Regions from separate parts of the Homo sapiens genome. Here regions 2, 3, 4 and 5 are each linked to region 1. Evidence: fine-mapped expression QTL. A gene starts in region 1. Each other region holds a variant in brackets. All regions are shown on one strand. Distances are between the middles of the regions.

The links.
Region 2: its variant is fine-mapped to the expression of TOGARAM2 in whole blood (TOPMed, PIP above 0.99).
Region 3: its variant is fine-mapped to the expression of TOGARAM2 in whole blood (TOPMed, PIP above 0.99).
Region 4: its variant is fine-mapped to the expression of TOGARAM2 in blood mononuclear cells (TOPMed, PIP above 0.99). The same link has a PIP of 0.9 or more in memory regulatory T cells and whole blood.
Region 5: its variant is fine-mapped to the expression of TOGARAM2 in unexposed skin (GTEx, PIP 0.95). The same link has a PIP of 0.9 or more in sun-exposed skin and whole blood.

The regions. Positions count from the first base shown.
Region 1 is chr2:28,979,394-28,983,506 of GRCh38, forward strand. TOGARAM2 (TOG array regulator of axonemal microtubules 2) reads left to right here and starts at 1,905. Exons shown (of 20, transcript NM_199280.4): 1 at 1,905-2,145.
Region 2 is chr2:29,000,586-29,004,698 of GRCh38, forward strand. It overlaps TOGARAM2 (TOG array regulator of axonemal microtubules 2), which reads left to right. Exons shown (of 20, transcript NM_199280.4): 5 at 1,951-2,162; 6 at 2,907-3,097. Among named protein-coding and RNA genes, the nearest start is that of TOGARAM2, 21 kb to the left of the region's middle. The variant C/G (reference allele first, on the strand shown) is at 1,624.
Region 3 is chr2:29,020,018-29,024,130 of GRCh38, forward strand. TOGARAM2 (TOG array regulator of axonemal microtubules 2) reads left to right here. Exons shown (of 20, transcript NM_199280.4): 11 at 2,141-2,291; 12 at 3,069-3,174. Among named protein-coding and RNA genes, the nearest start is that of TOGARAM2, 41 kb to the left of the region's middle. RefSeq lists an enhancer at 3,710-4,113. The variant G/A (reference allele first, on the strand shown) is at 2,528.
Region 4 is chr2:29,008,866-29,012,978 of GRCh38, forward strand. It overlaps TOGARAM2 (TOG array regulator of axonemal microtubules 2), which reads left to right. Exons shown (of 20, transcript NM_199280.4): 7 at 2,590-2,636. Among named protein-coding and RNA genes, the nearest start is that of TOGARAM2, 30 kb to the left of the region's middle. RefSeq lists an enhancer at 2,297-2,426. The variant T/C (reference allele first, on the strand shown) is at 2,236.
Region 5 is chr2:28,956,426-28,960,538 of GRCh38, forward strand. It overlaps a transcript of TOGARAM2 not described here. Among named protein-coding and RNA genes, the nearest start is that of TOGARAM2, 23 kb to the right of the region's middle. The variant G/A (reference allele first, on the strand shown) is at 1,816.

The DNA of each region.
Region 1 (4,113 bases):
AAAGAACCAAGACTCAGAGAGTTTGTTTCTTGCCTAAGATGTCATTGCTGGGATCAGAATCCAGTCTGGAATCCAGGGGCTTCAGAGCCCTGGTTCTTAAGGGCTGTGCTGTGTTATCCATCCTCCCTTATTGCAGGTAACACAGGAACAAGCAGGGGGTTACCTGCTGGGGCCTCTCTCCATCACTCAGCTCCTGAGGGCAGGCTGTGCTGCCTCCTGTGTCTCTAGCATTTGGCACAGAGCATGGCCAGCCCACCTTGGGAACACATAATGCTCGGCCATCCAGTGGAGGCAGAGTGTGGAGAGCCCAGGAGCTGAAGGAGGATGCAGTGGGGCCTGATTAGAGGGGCTTGGCAGCCATGGTGCTAAGTCTGGCCCTTACACCAAGGACAGCAGGGGCCATGAGGGGTGTCCAGCAGGGCACGGCCATCGGATCTGTGTTCTAGAAGCTCCGACTCAAGCAGCGACATGCAGATGGGCTTTGGGGGAGCTGCACACACACCATCTCCCTGCCAGAGCTGAGGGACACCAAAACCTGCCTTGTCACGTCCCCGCCCTGGGTTCCCATGGTTGAGTCGCTCTCACTCACAAGCTGTGTGGCTTGGGGCAAGGGCTTAACTTGCCAGGCCTCTCTTTCCCCACCTGGGCATCTTCATACCTGTCTCCCAAGGGGAATCCGCACAGCCACTGTTCCTGGTTTGGAGGAAGAGTCTCCTTTCTGGGCCTCTGCTACAGGGAGTTCAGGAGTTCCGTTCGCCTTGTCAGCTGTGACCTCTGGCTTGGGGCCAGCACCTGCCCCAGAGGGACCTTGTTCTCAGTCATAATTGGCTGGCCCTCCTTGCTCCCTCCTGGATCTTGGTAAATGACAGCAGCTACTCCCAAGGCCTGCCCTCCCTGGCCATCTCAGGGAAGAGGAGAGAGTCCCAGGAAGGAGCTACCCCGTGTGCAAGCATTTCAGCAGCCCAGGCCTCGTGGGGTGTAGTTGGCCTCCCACCAGCCATCCCTGTGTGTTCCACACACCTGCTGATTCCTTTGTACAGAATATGGGGAGGAGCTGCCTGGGAAAATTCATAGTATCTTTGGGCGAGTGGCTGTTTGCAAGCCTGCATACAAATTGAGTCCTTGGCTTCCACTGTGTGCCCCCTGGATGGTGAGGGCTAGAAGGGGGTAGCATGAGGAGTGGGACTGGCTGTCATTCCAGAGAGAGGATGCCAGCCTGGGATTTCCGCCCAAGAGCCTGGGTTCAGTGAGAAAGTACACATGGGCTGCTAGGATTCACATTTTCCAAAAGTTAAGGTGGAGAAATCTGGTTGGGACGAAGGCCACAGGCTTTCTGCTCTGCAAGGATTTCTGGGGAAGTGATGGAGAGCCTACCAAGTGCTAGACAAAATTACAAGCTGTTACATGCACCTTTGAAATCCTTACAGCAACCCTATCAAGTCAGTACTATTGGTGTACCCATTTTATAGATGAGGAAACTGAGGTCAAGAAAGGTAAAGTTCTGACCAGAGGGCACACAGCTGGAAGTAGCAGGATCAGGATTCAAACCCAGCTGCCTGCTGCCAAGGCCTGGATGCTCACTCTGTCTTTCTGCCTCTAGGAGAGTTAGTAAACAGAAGCAGATTGAGCCCAGAGGCCATGTGAGCAAAACCAGGAGTTCTACCAACAACATCCCTGCACCAAGCCAGCTATGCACTTCCTGGCTGCAGTCACCAGGCAGGGGGGCCCAGTGCTCTCTCTTTCTGTGGTGTCCATGACCCTAGAGGACAGGTCGGCCACTTGGTAGTGCCTGTGCTCCGGTGAGCCACAGAGGCAATGAGACCAAGGGGAAAATCTCTCGGCTCGGTCTCTCCCCCGCGCAGGGAGCTATGGGCTCCTTCAGCGAGTGGTTGCTATGCAGCCTTGTTTATTCAAGGAGAGCTTTGCTGAGAGCTGGAGCACGCCAGCAGTGGAGCTCGTGGCCACCCAGCCCCTGCTCAGACAGGAGGCTGCGGCCCAGGACTGTGTGGCTGGTGGGGGCCAGGGTGGGCCAGGCCTGGGGCTGCCCCGTCCTTGCCTCCCTGGGCCCATGAGCATCAACGTCTCTATAGAGACCAAGGACCCTGGATTCCTCCAGTGACAGGGGTTTGGCCTCTGGACAGAGAGGTGAGAGACGATAGGTCCACCAAGCCATCTATTGTAGGTGGTGAATGGGAGGCTGGGTCAGGACCCCTGAAGTCCCTGGAGGGAGGGATAAAGACCTGAACTGGAGCAAGCACAAACACACAGAGAAAGAAAAAGCATCCTGCTGTGACTTGGAGGCTGTGTGACCGTGGGGATGTCTCTGACCCTTTCTGGGCCTTCATGTGGCAGCTCTAGGGGAGGAGGTTGGACTCACTGTTCTCTGAGCACTGGGAGCCAAGGAAGGAGGGGCTGGCCTGGGCTGACCCCTTCCCCGAGTCATGGCCTCTGTGGGCAGTGCTCTCTACCTCAGGGTGAACCCTTCACAGGGCAACAGCTCCCTGGGGTGCTGTGGGCGATGGTGCCGGGAAGGGTGGGGGCATGCTGTGGGGATGGCACCCGTGCTTAGGGGTGCTGGGGCACCCCGTGAGAGCATAGGCCTTGGAGGGGCTCTGCTCTGGGTTTGAATTCTAACCCCCCCTCTTTCTGGCTGTGTGGACTTGAGCTCTTTGCCTCTCTGAGCCTCAGGTTTCTCATCTGTGAAGAAGGGTTTAAAAAAAGCCCCCTTGGTGCTGTCTGTGAGCATGGAGACAGTCAGGAGGGCAGCTGGCACGTTAGCCCATGCGCAGAATGGAAGTTACTGTTTGTTGTTGATGCTGTTGTTAGGTGGAGATTGGCATGTTCCTTTCTGGAGCACATTTCAGTCTCCTGAAACTAAGGTTTTGCCAGTCACTTCTCCAGGACAAGGGCTGGTGCTGGCGGGGGACCTCAGAGGGCTGCCATTTCCTCAGGAGCGCTGGGAGGGGAGGGACTGGGGCCCGTACTCTGTCGGAGCATCACTGAGGCAGGCCACAGGGCATTGGTGCCTGGCCCCAGGAAGTGGTGTGAGGGGCCCATAATCGCTTCTATCCTGAACTGGGCAGTCCCTCGCTCTTCTCACCAATGCCCTGCAGGAGACGGCCCTGCAGCCTTCTAGCCACAGGCTGGCTCCCAGGACTGGCTCAGTTTCAGCCCATGGAGCCTGAGACTAACAGATTTGAAGAAAGGGGGAGGTAGTTGGGGGCAAGGGATGGGGAGATGTCAACCTGAGCTCTGGAGAGACCTGCCTCTGAGGGCAGCGCATCCTCCCATTGACCCCACGGCTACCTCAGAGGCACCAGACTCTGCTCACTAGCACAGAGGCTGGAAGTTTATTATTGCAGACAGAAGAATGCATAAAATGCATGCAGTGTGAGGAATAATTATAAAGTGAATGTCCATGTAGCCACCTCCCAGGCCAAGAAACAGAAAAACTGGCCGCCTCCCAGAACCCACCCCCGTGGGCCCTGTCCTTATCACAGCTGCCTCCCTTCCCCTTAGGGTTAATCATGCTACTAATTTTTCCTTGATTTTCTATCAAGTTTTCCATCTATGTCTGCATTTTTATTTTAATTTAATTTCGCTTCATTTTTTGAGACAAGGTTTCACTCTGTCCCCCAGGTGGGAGTACAGTGGCATGATCTCAGCTCACTGCAACCTCTGCCTCCTAGGCTCAAGTGTTCCTCCCACCTCAGCTTCCCAAGTAGCTGGGTGTACAGGTGCACACCACCATGCCCGGCTAATCTTTGTGTGTGTGTATATATAAATATATATATATATATATATATTTTTTTTTTTTTTTTTTTTTTTTTTTTGTAGAGATGGGTTTTTTCCATGTTGCTCAGCCTGGTCTCGAATTCCTGGCTCAGGTGATATGCCTGCCTTGGCCTCCCAAAGTGCTGGGATCACAGGTGTGAGCCACCACGCTGGGCCTATGTATGCATTTCTAAACACTCGATGTAATTTTGTCTTTCTTTGAACTTTATAGAAGTAGGGGCATACCCTGTGTGGTCTCTTGGGTCTGTCTTCTTTCACTAAACATTACGCTGTGGCATCGTCCATAGTGTTGAGTGGGGCAGTCGTTTGTTTCATTGC
Region 2 (4,113 bases), 21 kb after region 1:
GGTAACAAGAGCAATAAGAAGTCTTGAGGTCTTAGGAAGAAAGGGGAAGTGCTCTCAAGAGGCACGTGGTTGCTGCCGTCAAGCCTGGGGTTGTGGTTGGCTGTTCTTCCCCTCCCCTGTGCAGACTGCTCCACCTGCTGAGCCTCTCCCTGGAGCCGTGGGGTGTCTCCAGCTCCCGGGGAGCCCAGGACAATGCCAGGGAGCCTCTGGGAGGAATTGTCCTGGCTGCACATTATGGAGGCAGAAGGTGGGGTTGGAATGCCCGAGAAGCTTCCTTAGAACTTCCAGTAGGTACAACTCCTAGAGCTGCCAGACCAACAACTCTCTCCCTTAGGGGCTTGAAGCCCTTTTCTAGATATTTCATTTCTTTTTTACAAAGTTCCAGCATAGGGAAAAAAAGAATGGAGTTGTTCTACCTAATGTTCTGATGGGCAGTGACCTATAGACTTATCAGGCCCCTCAGCAAGCATGGAGGGCCGGGGATCTCTGGCCCCCGGGCAGTGCTGGGGCTGCTCTGGCCCCTGCATTGAGGCTGAGTTGACTCCTCTGTGCCCTGACCCAGCTGGGGCTCAAGGTGGCCCGGCAAGTGGCACAGTCTCCACTTGACCACACCCCTTCTTTTCCATCCTTTCAGCTCCCCACAGGCTAACCACAACACAACAGTGCTCCAAGACAGAACAGAACCAGCACCGGAAGCCAGGAGGGGAGCGAGTGTGCAGGAACAGAGATGATATTTTGACTTGGCTGGTTTATTTTTTTTTAATTTTTTTTTTCTGGAACAGAGTCTCGCTCTGTCACCCAGGCTGGAGTGCAGTGGTGCGATTTTGGCTCACTGCAACCTCTGGGTTCAAGTGATTCTCCTGCCTCAGTCTCCTGAGTTGCTGGGATTACAGACAACCACCACTAGGCCCAGCTAATCTTTTTTTTTTTTTTGAGACCGAGTCTTGCTCTGTTGCCCAGTCTAGAGTGCAGTGGTGCGATCTCGGCTCACCGCAACCTCCACCTCCCAGGTTCAAGCGATTCTCCTGCCTCAGCCTCCCCGGTAGCTGGGACTACAGGCATGTGCCACCACGCCCGGCTAATTTTTAGTAGAGATGGGGTTTCACCATGTTGGCCAGGCTGGTCTTGAACTTCTGACCTCCAGTGATCCTCCCGTTCTCGGCCTCCCAAAGTGTGTGGGATTACAGGCGTGAGCCACTGCGCCTGGCCTGACTTGGCTGTTTTGATGCAGTGGTTTTGTTGAGGCCAGAATGAAAGTTAAAATGCTAGTCTTTTTTTTTTTTTTATTCCTCATCACTGATATTTACAAAGATAACCCTGAGCTCTTGGCCCAACCCAGTGCTTCTTGCCCTGTGCCTTTGCCTGAGGCATGGCTGTGGGGTGAGATGGGGTGGGGCACAGGGCGCTGAAGATGTCTGTTGGGCACCTAAAGCATTCAGAGGGGAGCTGGAAGTGTGGCGGTCTGTCTTAGACTATGTTAGCTGTGTCAAAACAGCTACGCCCCACATCACCAGCCGAAAAGGAAGGGGAAACAGTGGCAGGTACTTGCCTGGCATCTTATATAAGTGATGTTATTGAATCACCCCATTTCACAGAAGTGTAATGGGGTTCAGAGAGACAGTG[C/G]CTTGCTCGAGGTCACATAGCTTCTACCCACGGCCAGGACCTGCCATGCTTCCTCCTGATCTGGCACTGCTTTTATTTCCCTTCCTTCCCACGCTGCCTCTGAATTCTAAACAGGTAACTTGGATTGGCCCTTTCTGGAATGGCACAGACACTCAGAAGTGGCTGCTTGCTCAGTCTACCAGTGGTGGGGTTGGGGACAGATCTGATCTCTCTCCTCGCCATCCCAGTCCTTCCCAGGGCAGAAGGCCCCGTTGCTGGGGTCTGAATCCACCTTCCACTCCCTGTTCTTCTGGGACTAACTGATTTCCCATCCCCATCCCTGTACAGCCTCTCTGGATCCAGGGGGAGGCCCCCAAGGAGTTCCCCTGCACAGCACCATCCCCCGAGCCACCTCTCAGAGGCTGCTGAGGGTGCCCAGGCCGATGCCTCTCATCCAGAGCATCCCTACCACCCCTGAGGCCAGCGGAGTCAAAGAGAAGGGCCTGGACCTACCGGGGAGCATTCCGGGTCCTCACGAGTTGAGACCCGGTGCTCAGGAGGTAAGGTGGTTCGACTGCTGTGAGTCTGGTCCTCAGCTTCTTGCCCTCCCTTCCTCCTGCCTTTCTTTCTAGCCTCCACCAACCCCTGACTCCATGCCCTGAGCATCCCTGGAGGTGTCTTGAGGTCTGCAGTGAGGATAGGGACAGCACTGGGAGAGGCTCAAGGTGCTCATTTCACCACCTCCCCCAGCATCTCAAACCTCCATAGCTGGCCTGGGGGCTCTGGGTGGCTGTGCCAGAGGCTGCATGACCTTTGTCCTAGAACTGGTGGTCCCCTAGGCCTTCTCTGGTCTAAATGTTCCAGAATTCCTCCTGCTTTCTGGCCCTCTCCATTTTAAGCAAGAGTGTGGCAAAGAATGCTGGGCTAGGACTCAGATTTGGGCCTTGGTTTCTGTTTGCCCCTCACTGGCTGTGTGACCTTGTGCAAGTCACACCCCTCTTTGGGCCCCAGTTTGCACATCTATGAAAATAGAGGTTTGGCCCAGATGTGTTTGAAGGTCCTTCCAGCTCTGATGTTCTAGGATTTTTCTGAAATGAGAACAGAAAAACGAATAATAATAGTCACAAAAGGGCTTGCCAGTCTCCTCACCAGGAGTGGTAAGGAAGCAGTCAGGCTTCTGGGGGTCCCAGGGTGGTGTGGCTGAAAAGAGACAGCAGGTCCCACACTGTGTGAGGTGCCTGGAGGTGAGCATTCACCATGGGATGTTGCCATAGGCCAGACCCCTGTCCCGCCTCTGCTCCCAGGCGCAGATCTCCTGGCAATACCTGCACTGCAATGATGAGAAGATGCAGAAGTCCCTGGGCGCCATCGTGATCCCACCCATCCCAAAGGCCAGGACGGTTGCAGCGACCCCCTCCCGTGTGCCTGGCTCCCTTCCCAGCCCGTTACCTCCAGGCCAGGGAGTCCTCACAGGCCTGAGGGCCCCACGCACGCGGTAAGAGCTCCAAGTCAAACCTTCCTTGCTGACTTCTCTCCCTCTGTCCCCCTGAGATCCACTGGGGCTCCTTGTGGCTGACCCTCCATGCTGTGGCAGAGTTCTTGGGACACCAGGCAGGGAAAGGGCTGGGGGCTCCACCCATGAGCCACAGACCTAGGGAGGTCCCAGCATGGTTGCCGGGGCTTCTCTGCCTCTTGGCTCCGGCAGGCTGGGTCAATGGCATCACGAACAATGTCTCCAGCCTCTGTCTTCTCCCAGTGCCTTAGTGGATGAGGTTGCCGGAGTAATGAATAAAACACTAATTATTTTATCTCATATATATAATTTTGAGATGGAGTCTCACTCTGTCGCCCAGGCTGGAGTGCAGTGGTGTGATCTCAACTCACTGCAACCTCCGCCTCCCGGGTTCAAGCGATTCTCCTGAGTAGCTGGGATTACAGGCACCCACCACCATGCCCTGCTAATTTTTGTATTTTTAGTAGAGACGGGTTTCAGCATGTTGGCCAGGCTGGTCTTGAAACTCCTGACCTCAGGTGATCTGCCCTCCTTGGCCTCCCAAAGTGCTGGGATTATAGGTGTGAGACACCGTGCCCGGCTATGAATAAAACACTATTTTAAAGCATGATTGAGTTCATGGCAGCTCTTTGTAATTAAATATTTTCTTAATTGATGGATACTAAAAATACAACCAGTATCATGTGTATGGGGGACAGTCCACAAACTTTTGGACTTGAAAAGGGGTCTTCATATCCCACAAACAAGTGGGGAAGAGGATCTTTGTGTTGGCATAAATCGGGTTATGGCTTGTAAGTAAGACAGTGCTCTAGATGGCCAGCAACATCCCCGTGGTCAGTCCAGAGTGATGTCAGAGCACGTGTGTGTGAGAGTGAGTGTGTCTGAGTGTCTTTGTGTGTGCACACATGTATGAGTGCCTGCAGGTATGTGTGAGTGTATGTGTATGAGTGTGTATGTGTGCATGTATATGTGAGTATATGCATGTATGTGAGTACAAG
Region 3 (4,113 bases), 41 kb after region 1:
GAGAGCACACCCAACAAAGGAGGGAAGGGGTTTTTATCCCTAATGCAGTCAGTCCCTACTACTGTGTCCGGTCCCCATTGGCTGGGGTTGGACAGCACAATCTAAGCTGATCCCGACTGGCTACTTCAAATGGATCAGGGGCTCTAGCGGTGGGAAGAGCAGTTTTGGAACTAAGGGCCTCAAATAAGGAACAGATGTGGGTTGTTACAGATTGGGAACTGATGTGGGTTACAGATTGGGAATGGATGTGGGTTACAGATTGGGAGTGGCTGGAAAGTTGTTTATTGTAACTAGGGGCAAGGAGGCAAGGAAGTTAAGCTTTGAAAATAGAGGACAAGCGGGACCTTTGAAGAGGAACTCACTGTTTCCAACAAGGAGCTGGCCTTTCTTGGGAGACTGGGTTAGTTTAGGTGAGCTCAGCTCAGGATCTGTTCAACTTCTTCTGTTGTGTGTGTGAAAAATAGAAATGACTGAACCAGAAGGCACAAATACGAACATGACTGGAAAGCTGTCAGAGGTAGGGCAAAGGGGGAGGCCACACAAGCCCTCAAGACACTGGAGGCTGGAATCCCCCTGCCAGTGCCTTTTGTGGGTTTGTTTTTAAATCCAGTGGATGCTAAATGCCCCTGTGGGGTGCGGTGAAGGCGAGGAAGGGGGGCAGCAGGGCAGGTGGCTGTATTGCTCGCTCCAGAAGACTGAGCCTCTTTTTGAGAGCGTTGCAGACAGCATGTCATTCACGTCCGTGCTGCCCAGGGAAGGATGGGGAGGTTGGATATTACCTCCTGCCTTTCAGAGAGTGACTGAAATAACTGATTAAGAGACTGTTCCACCTGCCAAGGGCAGTGCTGAAAAAGAGTCCAAGAGTGAGGGCTTTGTGTCTCCGCTTTTTTTGTTTGTTTGTTTTTTTAATCCCTGAGACTGAGTCTCACTCTGTCGCCCAGGCTGGAGTGCAGTGACATGATCTCGGCTCACTGCAACCTACGCTTCCCGAGTTCAAGCGATTCTCCTGCCTCAGCCTCCCGAGTATCTGGGATTACAGGCATGTACCACTATGCCCAGCTAATTTTTGTATTTTTAGTAAAGACAGGGTTTCACCATGTTGGGCAGGCTGGTCTTGAACTCCTGATCTCAGGTGATCTGCCTGCCTTGGCCTCCCAAAGTGCTGGGATTACAGATGTGAGCCACTGTGCCCGGCTGTGCGTCCACTTTCAGTAAAGGGCTTCCTCTCCACTCAGACTTGCCTAGGACCTCCAGATGTACTGTGGTGAAAATCATCCTGGTGGAGGTGAAGCTCGGGAGAAAACTCGCCAGGAAGGAAGATGTGGTAGTGAGAGCTCTGGACTGGGAGGGGGATCTTCTTGTCCTGGCTGTGCTGACAGAGGAGCCGAGGGGCTGTGGAGGGTCCCCCACCCTCTCTGGGCCTCTGGGACCTCAACTGTGTGATCAGGGCATTTGGCTAGACAGAGGCCCTGTAAGACTCCTTCCTGTCCTAGGAGTTTATGATTTCAGCATCTGTCTCCTGGGAAGGAGAGCCTAGAAAACACGACAACCTGTTTGTTGTGGGTCCCTGTGTGTGTGGCTGCATCTGGACTGTGTGGGTGCCAGTTAGCTACATTGTCTTCCTCTAGCCATCTGCTCTTGGACTCTTCCCTGCTTGTGGGCAACCTCACAAAAGGCTGGATAGCAAGAGGGAAGGAAGAGGCGCTGACCATACAGGCCTCTGGTTGGGAATGAGGTTAGACCGCCACCAAAGTGAGTAGGGAGATCATTCATTGATGGCTCAGGGGGCCCCACCCCACCACAGATGGGGCAGGTTTGGAGGTGTCCCCCTGACTGGGGGGTTTAGTCCCATGACATCATGTGGCTTATCACAAATCTGTTTATAAGAATCGCATTGGCAAGGGCAGGAAGGGGAAAAGTCAGCCAAAGGTAGAGTTAGGAGGTCTTCATGGCTCCTGGGGAGGGAGGCCCAGGCGCTGGGTTCTTAGCCTCACCAGGCACTTCCACTTGTACACCCTCCCTGTTAGGTGGGCTCAGGGTGGTGGCACGGCCTCCCATGGTGAGCGGTGGCAGGAGCGGCCACTCGGGCTCTTGCCTGTCCTGCTGCGTGAAGCCTGCTGTTTCTTTCTTGTGAATGCAGCTAACTCATTACCTGCGGTGCTCACGTTGGGGTCTCCTGAATGGGAAGAAGAGGAGGAGATGGATCTTAGAGCCTGTAAGGAGTTGAGGCCTTTCTCGAACCCGGAGCTGGGGCTGAGGGATGCACTCCAGTGCCTCAACAGCAGTGACTGGTGAGGAGATGCTTCCACCACGTGCTGTGTTCTGGCCGGAAGCAGGGGCTGTTGCAGAATAGCTTCTGCCCCTCAACTTCCCTCCTCTCCCACTCTGGGGTTCCAGCACCATGGAGCATAAAAGCCAGTTTGGAGGGAGGACTGTGCATGCATATAGATATGTGTGTTTATGTGCGTGTGTGCATGAGTGTGTGGTGTTCCTGGCTTTATGTGTGTGCCCTGCGACCCTCCAAGCA[G/A]CCTATGCATGGCTCTGTGGTGTACCAAAGCCAGGCATGGCAAGGATGCATTTGATTCCACACCATGGGGCCCAGGAAGGCCGCAGCCCTTTATTTCTCTGAATGAAATTGAATCTGCTCCGAGCGCTCCTCCCACTGTGGGGATGCAGGACCGTAGTCATGAGCAAAGCAATGCCTCGGCCTCCAGAACATTTGTGAGAAGCCCTCCCTGCCTTCAGTCCTCCCTGTTCAAGTGCCTTTTATTGAAGGTGTTGGCTTTGTGTCAAGGACCCAGACAGGTCCTGGAGGGGGGTGGGCTTCCATACAGCACTGTCAGAGCTGAGGGCTGGCCAGAGGCCACATAAAACTGGCTTTTACTGAGTGGTTAGGATTCCAGGCCAGGGTGTTACCCCGGGAAACCCTGCTCTGAGGCCATGGAATGGCACCCTGCTGCGGGTGACGGTGGACCGTGATGGTGTGTGATGTGGGGCCCCTAGTCTGCAGAGGGGTGGGGCTCCTCCCTCTCCACCCTTCTGCAACAGGGCCTGGCCTTGCTTCTCAGGCAGATGAAGGAGAAGGGTCTGGTGAGCATCCAGCGCTTGGCAGCCTGTCACTCAGAGGTCCTCACCGGGAAGCTGCACGACGTGTGCTTGGTGGTGACTGGGGAGGTGAGGCCCCCCAGCCTGTGTGCTGTGCATTTGGCCCCACTGCAGCTGCTGGATGCAGTCCGCTAGCAGCTGTGGAGGGGCTGTGGCTTCAGGGACATGGGGATCCCTGCTTATTTCTCAGCCTTCAGCCACTGAGGTAGGAGGTAGCCACCCATTTCTCAGATTGGAAAACTGAGGCCTAGGGTTTCCTTATTTGTAATCTTTGAGAATGGAAACAATTAGAATCCCACATGCCCATGTGTCGGCCTGCATGGTCCTCTGTACTCAAAATGCCTAAGGAGGGATGGAGCGTCCAGGGCCAGATCCCCAACTCCAGGGCAGTGGTAGTATTTCCCAAAGCGTTTCTTTCATGGCTCTGTGGCTTGGTCTAGCTGGGTCCAGAGAGGCAGGAGGCTACATTTGTTCTCATGTGGAGGCTGTGCCCTGCCCTTGGGAGTGGGCTGCTCCAGTGGGGGTGGGGTGGGGATGAATACGGAGGACGCTGTTTTGTTAACACAGGGGCCTGGGCTGTGTGGGGAGCATCTGCCTTCCTGCATGTGGCCTGGGGTCTCTGTTTCCTCTGCAAAGTGAGGCATCCAGAAAAAATACAGTTACATTCTCCCAGGTTAATTAGAGCCTCAGTCAGCACTACTGTGCTTCTCATGGTACCTATTTCTCACTTGGTAGTTGCAAAGATCAAATCAGACATTCTTTGTAAAAGTGCTTTGAAGACAGAGTGTACACATTTCCTATGGTCATGATAATGATGGGATTAATAATTGAGATGATAACAAAATGGGACAGTTTTGCTCAGAGTGGCTGCAGGGTTTTTGTTTCCAGCGTGGCAAGGCCTAGGTCAGGGGAAGGGTGGGGGTGGAGGAAGAGGGTGGTGCAGGGCCCATTTTCCATGCGTCCCAGAGCCCTTGGCAGGGTCCAGCACCCTGGAGGGCCTCTCTCCTC
Region 4 (4,113 bases), 29 kb after region 1:
CATGGATTAGTTCCGTAATAAATATCTGTCCTTTCCTGTTTGGTTTGTGACATGGATTTCCCTTTGTTGACAATGTGGGGCTCTCTAGCCAATGGAGGGGATGGAGGCTCTATTACCATTTCAGTCATCCATCTGTCCGTTTACTCACCTAAAAGCTGTTAAGCACCTACTATGTGCCAGGTGCATAGGTCACAATCTGTGTGCTCCAGCCAGGAAGTCATCAAGGTGAAGTTCAGAGAGGTGGGTGCGTAGGCGAAGGCTGCCTGTCATGTTGGTGACCCAGGAGAAAGAGATCTGAATCATGCCAGGCAGACTTCTCAGGGCAGGATGAGGGCACACTTGCGAGATGGAGATGGAGGTGGAAGAGGGAGAGACGGAAGGAGGAGTGAGCCCCTGCATCCTTGCGTGACAGCCTGCGGGGTGGGGGTGAAGGGCCTGTGTGCCAACTGAGAAGTGGGAGCTTCATCCTCCTGTAAGGAGGTGCCACCAAAGGCTTTCGGGTGTGAAAGTGGCATCTGCTGTGACTTAGAAAGGCCATGTTGGCAACCTCAGAGTGGCATGGACCGTGTAGATGGAGGTGGGGCTGCTGCAGGAATCCGGGGAGAAGGCAAAGGGTGGCTGAGCAGGGCAGAGGCAGGGAGTCTGTGGGCTGAGGATGCAGAGGTGGGGGCGGGGCGGGATGAATGGCAGGGCTAAGCCACGGGGTAGATGTGGGCTGAAGATGGGGGAGCTGAGACCATGCCGGGGTTCCTGGCTTCAGCCACTGGACAGATACTGGCACCCTTCTTGGAGACAGGGCATAGGAGAAGAGGCAGGTGCTGGGGACAGTGCTGAGGCCACTCTTGGACATGCTTAGACGTTTGGGTTGGAGCCGGGAGGGGCTCTTGCTGGAAACAGGGCTTTGCTGCTCCTGCTCCACCCACCTCCTTGGGGCCTGCGGAGGAGCCTGAGCGGTGGTGGGTTTTCTGTGAGGTTCGCACAGGGTGGGGCGGGGCTGCCACGTGCAGGAAGGCAGGGGCCCTGATCGGCATGGCCTGTCTTGGCCTCAGTCCTTTCTGCTGTGGGGTCGCTAGAGAAGGGGAGGGCAAGAGGCTTCCCCAGGGTCCACAGCTTAAGAGAAGCTGCGCCAAGTCCTCTGAGGCCAAATCCCTTGCTCAGAGCAGGTGTGTGTGTGTGTGTGTGTGTGTGTGTTGGGGGGGCGCAGAGCGGGGGAGGCTGCAGCTCAGGGCCCCAGGGGCAAAGCCGAGGCATAAGCATTGGGGTTTTTGGCATCCTGTGCTCACCTCAGGCAGCCTGGGACCTCCATGAGCTCATAGAAGCCAAGGGCAACTGTGTGGACTTTGATGCTCCACTTCCCCTCCCCGCCCGCCTCCAATCCTCTTAGTGCCGTTGGGCAGTGGTTAAGCAGTGGTGGGTTACAATGGCAAAGGCCTAGTGGGCGAGCTCCCCAGGTCAGGGGTGCCCTGGAGCATTCGCTTACTATCTCCAGCCCACACGATCCCTCCCTGTGGGTCCAGACCCAAGAGGCTGGGCCTGGCCCTGGGAGCAATGGCGAATCCCGGCTGATCTACGCCCAGGTTGAAGCTCCGCTCCTCCTGTGGACTCCCCTGACCTCCACAGTCCCCAAGGATCAGGGTTCCCCTGCATCCAGGCAGGCACTGAGGGGGGCTGTCCTACCGCCCCTCCTGCAGCCCGGCCTGGACTGTGATCCTCTGAGGCCAGTGTGTGGGATATTGTGTTCCTGACCTGTTGCTGTGGCTTGTTACTCTGTCAGCCCCCCAGTGGGTCCTGATGTCCACCGAGAAGGGAAAGCCATGTAGGACGCTGCAGGGCTGGTCTCCATGGGAACCTGAGCTCCCGGAGGGCGGGGAGTGTCATGTCTTATTGATGCTCCATTCCCAGTGTCTAGAATAGTGCTTGACACATAGTAGGTCTTCAGTAAATATCTGTTGAATAAGTAAATGGTGCTTCCAACTTAAGAAATTACAATTAAAACCAGTGCCAGGGATGCCACTGTCTTCCCCCTCCTGTGGGTAATTGGGATTGAGCTTCTGGTACAAAACAGTGGTGACTTCCTGCCACAGCAAAGGGGATCAGCTCCGCCCCCCAGGCCCTGGGATGGGGATTACAATCACGAGTGGGACTATTTAGGGGTCACTGAGCTCTCACGGGGTTGGGGCAGCTTGGAGAACTTGAGCTCAGTGCTGTCTAAGCTGGGAGGCAGTTTACCCTTGT[T/C]TACTGCAGCTGCTGTCAACTCCACAGGCCCAAGCAGCACAGCGGGAGGGTGGGGGCTTCCTTTAAGTCAGCAGTTTCTGTGTGGGTGTCAGCCTCCTGGGGAATGCGCGAGCTGCACTGCCAGGAAATGGGGCTGAACCTGGCCTGGTGGTCAGCCTGCCCTTGTGTTTGCAGAGGGAGCTGTATCTCCTGCAGCTTGAATCCTGGGCCAAGAGCCTCTGCAGGGATAACAGTGCCGTCCCCTCTGTCCCCCATCTCGGCCATTGCCCCATCCTGGAGCCACCCTGGGCTCCCCCAGCAGTGTCTCTGGCTGGCCATCCCTCATGATGCTTTTCTCTCCCCCGTTCTTTTAAGATTGGCTCGGGGGAGTGGGCCTCGGGAGAAGACCCCTGCATCTCTGGGTACGTATCTTCCATGCACACCTCCCTTTGTTATTTGACTCTCTACATTCCTGGGCTGGGTCAGGGAAACAGAATTAGGGCCAGAGGAGATCTGAGAGCTCTTGTGTCTGGGCCCTTCATTTCACAGCAGGAAGCTGAAGTCACCGGAGGTCTAACCGGAGGGTGGCAGCGGGCCCGGGCGAGGTGTGGAAGAGAAGTGACATTTATTGACACCTGCTCTGGTACGTCAGGTGTGATGACGTACACCAGCTTGTGCAGCTTGCCACGGCCTCGATAAGAGAGACAATTCTGGCCGTGTGTGACAGACGAGCTGGCACACGAAGGCTCTGTGAGCAGGATGTCCTCCCTGGTCGCTGAGCCCCATCAGGCTTGCAGCCAAGTTTCCACGGCTCCAAAGCTGGGGTCTTGACACATCAAGCAGCTGCCCCTTGCGGTGTGTTAAGCAAGTAGAGAGAGTATTCCTCACCTAGAGAATGAGAGGGTAAACCAGAGCCCACAAACCTCAGCCAGCTGGCCCCAGGAGCTTTAGCTGTCAGGATATAGGGCCAGCACAGGATTGAGGCGAGGAGAGGGGACAGGGCAGGGTAGGAGGCCTTTAAAGAGGGAGGAGGGATCCTTCCTGGATTGAACTCTATGGGGAGGTGGGACGGGTGGATGGAAGCTGAGCCTCTGCTGCAGGGTTGGGGAGCAGAACACCCCGAACCCAGGCCAGGGTGGGGAGGAGTTGGAGGCAGCCGCTCTACTGCCCGGCAGGAGGGGTGGCCTCCCCAGGACCAGCTTCCTGGCAGGTCACTCTGCTAATCAGCTCAGCTGGTGGGGCAGTTGGCGAAGGGGGGTGGCTGTTGCCCAAGAGGCCCTGGGATCAAGACACAAAGCTGGACCTGGCACAAGAAACCTCTGCGGCAGCTGCTTCTCCCCTGCTCCCGGGCCAGGCTGCAGCAGGGTGAGCTCAGGCAGTCTGTGGCGAAATGCACCGGCACCCTGAGTGACCTTAAGAGCTAACCCGGAGGACGCTGGTGTGGGGGTTGGGCCAGGAGACCCCAGTCAGTAACCACTTCCTCCCCTGGCTCTCCAGCTTGCTGCTTGAGAACCAGGTCACCAGGGACCTGTGGCAGGGGCAGGCTGCTCAGACAGGGCTTTCCAGGGCATCCCTTTGGGGTGGAGGTGAAGAAGTGACATAAAAAATAGTTAAGTCCTTAAAGGGCTCTCTGCCCTCCAGCTGGCAACTGGGCTGACACTGCCCTCTGTGTGCAACATGCCTAGCACATGGTAGGGGCTCACAGGGTCTTGTCTGAAGCTGGGGGCTTCCTCACATCTGTGGCATTCCTGCAGTCCTTGCCCTGGCCAGGTGGTGCCTACCACATGTGCCCTCTGCTCTGCCTCTTACCTCTGGGCAGATGAGGCTTCAAAGCCCCTCTTCCCCCTTGGCCCTTGATCCTTCTCCCTGCACCAAGCAGAGGAATCCTTTGCAGAAGAC
Region 5 (4,113 bases), 23 kb before region 1:
TTCATTTTAACTGCAGCAGGATCAGAGGGAGGGCTGGTTAAAACACAGGCTGCTTTGCCCTACCCTGGAGTTTCTCATTCAGCCAGATGGGGGCCAAAGAATGCGTCCCACGTGATGCTGCTGCTGCTGCTGTGTTACGGCTGCGCTTCGGAGAACCACTGCTGCCATTCCCTGATCGATAGATGCTTGGGGTGCTTCCTGTTTCTCAGTAAAGTGAAGTTGCGGCGACCTCGTGCCTGCCTTATGTGCACCTGTGCCAGCATCTTTCTCAGGTGGGTAAGGAGAGGTGGAATTCTGGTCACAGGCTACATGTACCTTAAATTTCAATAGATTCCGTCAAATTGCCTCTCAGTATGGCTGTAACAATTTATAGATGAGCTTCCACACAATATTTTACCCAAGTTAAAAATAAATCCTGGCCGGGTATGGTGGCTCATGCCTGTAATCCCAACACTTTGGGAGGCCGAGGCGGGCGGATCACCTGAGGTCAGGAGTTCGAGACTAGCCTAGCCAACATGGCGAACCCCTGTCTCTACTAAAAGTACAAAAATTGGCCGGGAATGGTGGAGGGCATCTGTAATCCCAGGAGAATTGCTTGAATCCGGGAGGCGGAGGTTGCAGTGAGCCGAGATCGCGCCACTACACTCCAGCCTGGGCCACAAGAGGGAGACTTTGTCTCAAAAAACAAAAAACAAAAAACGAAAAACAAATCCTATGGGAATTTTGATTGGGCTTGTGATAAGCCAATAGGTTAATTTACAATTGATTTCTTTTTGTTTGTTTGTTTGAGATGGAGTTTTGCTCTTGTTGCCCAGTATGGAGTGTAGTGGCGTGATTTCGGCTCACTGCAACTTTCTTCTCCCGGATTCAAGCAATTCTCCTGTAGCCGGGATTACAGGCGCCCGCCACCACGCCTGGCTCATTTTTGTATTTTTAGTAGAGACGGGGTTTCGCCATGTTGGCCAGGCTAGTCTCCAACTCCTGACCTCAGGTGATCCGCCTGCCTCGACCTCCCAAAGTGCTGGAATTACAGGCATAAGCCACTGCGCCTGGCCAAGAATTGATTTCATTACGGAATATTATAACATTAAAATGTACCTTTCTCACATGATAGTAATACAATGATGATGATTTTTTAAAATTGGGAAATTGTGGCTCTTCTCCCTCTGGCTGGAGTCATGACGCTGGAAGAAATGATCTCATTGCTCCTTTAGGAGTGTGTATATCTGAACATTCCAGTTTGGGCAACATTGATAAGGTTTGTTCACATGATACTTACCACACTCTTACCTCATGAATGAATGATTTTGTGTGTTTATTTCGAACTTCAGTTTCATAGGATAGGGAAGGAGTAGGGGGTCTACAAGGGTGGGGAGGGTATCTTCAATAGGAGAGGTGTTTTTTTGTTTTTGTTTTTTTGCCACTCTCTCACAGCTGGGTGTTCAGGGCCCTGCATTTGACACAGTGTTGAATGTCCCTAGGAGGGGGACTATGGCATAGGGATGAGTAGGGAGACACAGTTGAGCAACTAATTAGGATGTGAGGTAGAATGAGTCATTAACTTTCACCAGTGAAGCCATTACAGTCATGACAAAAAAGAAATTGATCTATTAAGAGCCAGGGATTTAAATGATTTTAGGATTTGAGGGAGGGCCTTCTAGGAAGCAAGAGTGATGAAAGTGAAAGACAAATAGGTCCGTTCTAGAAATTTGCAACTTGAGCATTTTAGAACTGAGGTCCTTGATTGGTTGGAAATCAGGTGTAAGAGATTATCTAGTGGTAAGCAACCAAAATGAGTTTGAATGAGTGGAGAGC[G/A]TATGGCAAATTCTTTTCAGGTGTCTCCAAATGATCCTTTCTCCCTCACTAGACCTTGTTTTTTTTTTTTTTCCTTTTCTTTTGGGACAGGGTCTTGCCCTGTTTTTCAGGCTGGAGTGCAGTGGCATGATCATGGCTCACTGCAGCCTCGGACTCCCAGGCTCAAGTGATCCTCCTGCTTCAGCCTCCCGAGTAGCTGGGACTATGGGCATGCACCACCATGCCTGGCTAGTTTTTAAATTTTTTGTAGAGTTGGGGTCTTGCTAAGTTGCCCAGATTTTGAACTCCTGGGCTTAAGCAATCCTCCCTCCTTGGCCTCCCCAAATGCTGGGATTACAGGCGTGAGCCACTACAGCGGGCTGACATTCCATTTTTGGATTTTGGAGTGCACACGTGTGTATTGGCTTTTTGCTGTTCCTTGGATTTGGTGAATTCAGGGGAAGCACGACCAGGTTGCTACAATTGTATTTTTTCTCATCTTCACCAGGCTTGTCGGGATTGTCCAGGTTACTTTCTCTGGTTAGAAGTATAATACAAACGTCAATATAAAAAGCATCCACTAGGTGCCAGTCTTGCTTTGTGCAAATTTCTTTTTATCCCAGCCTTCTGGGAGAGCAGTTGGTTCTGGCCGCCTCCTGTCTAAACTCCCGTGGAGGGTGGGGATGTGAGCTTTCTGCGCGCCAGCCCTCTGGGATTGGCTGAGAGAATCTCCAAAGTGCTTGCAGCTCTTTTCTGGTGTCCAAGTCCTGAAGCGGAACCTGAATGACTGTAGCCCAGCAGCAGGCGTGATGAGAGGGGCCTGGAGGGAATCCTGATGGGAGGAGATCGAGTCTCCAGGTGGTGGCTGCACCTCCAGTTTCCCTGGCCTGGCTGTACCCTCCCTGGACCTGACCAAACTCCCCACCGGGCTACAGATGCTAACCCGAAAAAGTGCCCAGCTGTCAAGAGAAGCTGCAGCAGCTCTTTAGTCTGACACAGTTGCTGAGCATAGGAAGCTTGAATTGATGTTTCCCCCTCATGTCCTTAAATAGTGAAGTAATAGCCAAAATAAGAAAGAAATTAACCACATCATACACCAACTGCATCAATTTCCCCATAGACTTTGTCCATGAAATCCAGGAGTTTACATATGTCAATGATAGTGGGGAAGAGGGAGAAGAATATGGTTTTTCACTTCTTTTCCCAACTTAGGAAAATTTCAAATATACAGAAAAGTTAAAAGAATAGTATAGGCCGGGTGCGGTGGCTCATGCCTGTAATCCCAGCACTTTGGAAGGCCGAGGGGGGCGGATCACAAGGTCAGGAAATCATGACCATCCTGGCTAACATGCTGAAACCCCATCTCTACTAAAAATACAAAAAATTAGCCGGGCGTAGTGGCGGGCGCCTGTAGTCCCAGCTACTCAGGAGGCTGAGGCAGTGAACCTGGGAGGCGGAGCTTGCAGTGAGCTGAGATCGTGCCACTGCACTCCAGCCTGGGCGACAGAGTGAGACTCTGGCTCAAAAAAAAGAAAAAAAAGAATAGTATGATGATCTGTATATACACGCCACTTAAAGTAAAACACTGTTGATATAGTCATATGACCCTTAACAACGGGGATATGTTCTGAAAGATGTTGTTAGGTGAAATTGTGTCATTGTGAGAATCAAAGAGTGCACTGACATAAACCTGGGCGGCACAGCCCGCTACACATGTGGGCTATCTTATGTAGCCTACATTGTTTCTAGGCTACAAACCTGGACAGCATGTTCCTGGACTGAGTACTGTAGGCAGTTGGAACACAGAGAGATGTGTGTATCTAAACATAGAAAAAGCCAAGTAATACGCTATTGTATTATAATCTTATGGGACCACCGTTGTATATGTGGTCCAACATTGACCAAAATGTCATTATGCAGTCCATGACTATATTTGGCTATATTTTTCTTCATCTGTATTTGTGTGCATATATTTATTTTTGCTGATCTACTAGAAAGTAAACTGAAGGCATCATCACACTTTATTCTTAACTACTTCAGGGTGACGTGCCTACAGATTATGACTCCTGCAATAACTACAATACCATTCTTATATCTCTGAAGCTCCAAACCGTAATCCCCTAATACCATCCTCCTGTCTAATTATTTAATATTATTTAATTTTTAATTTTTTTTGAGGCAGAATCTTGCTCACTCTGTCACCCAGGCTGGAGTGTAGCAGCAGCACGTTAATATTCAGTTTCTTTTCAAATCAGGATCCAATCCACACTCACTCACTGGGTTTGTTTGTCAAGTCTTCTTTAGTTACTTTTGCTCTAA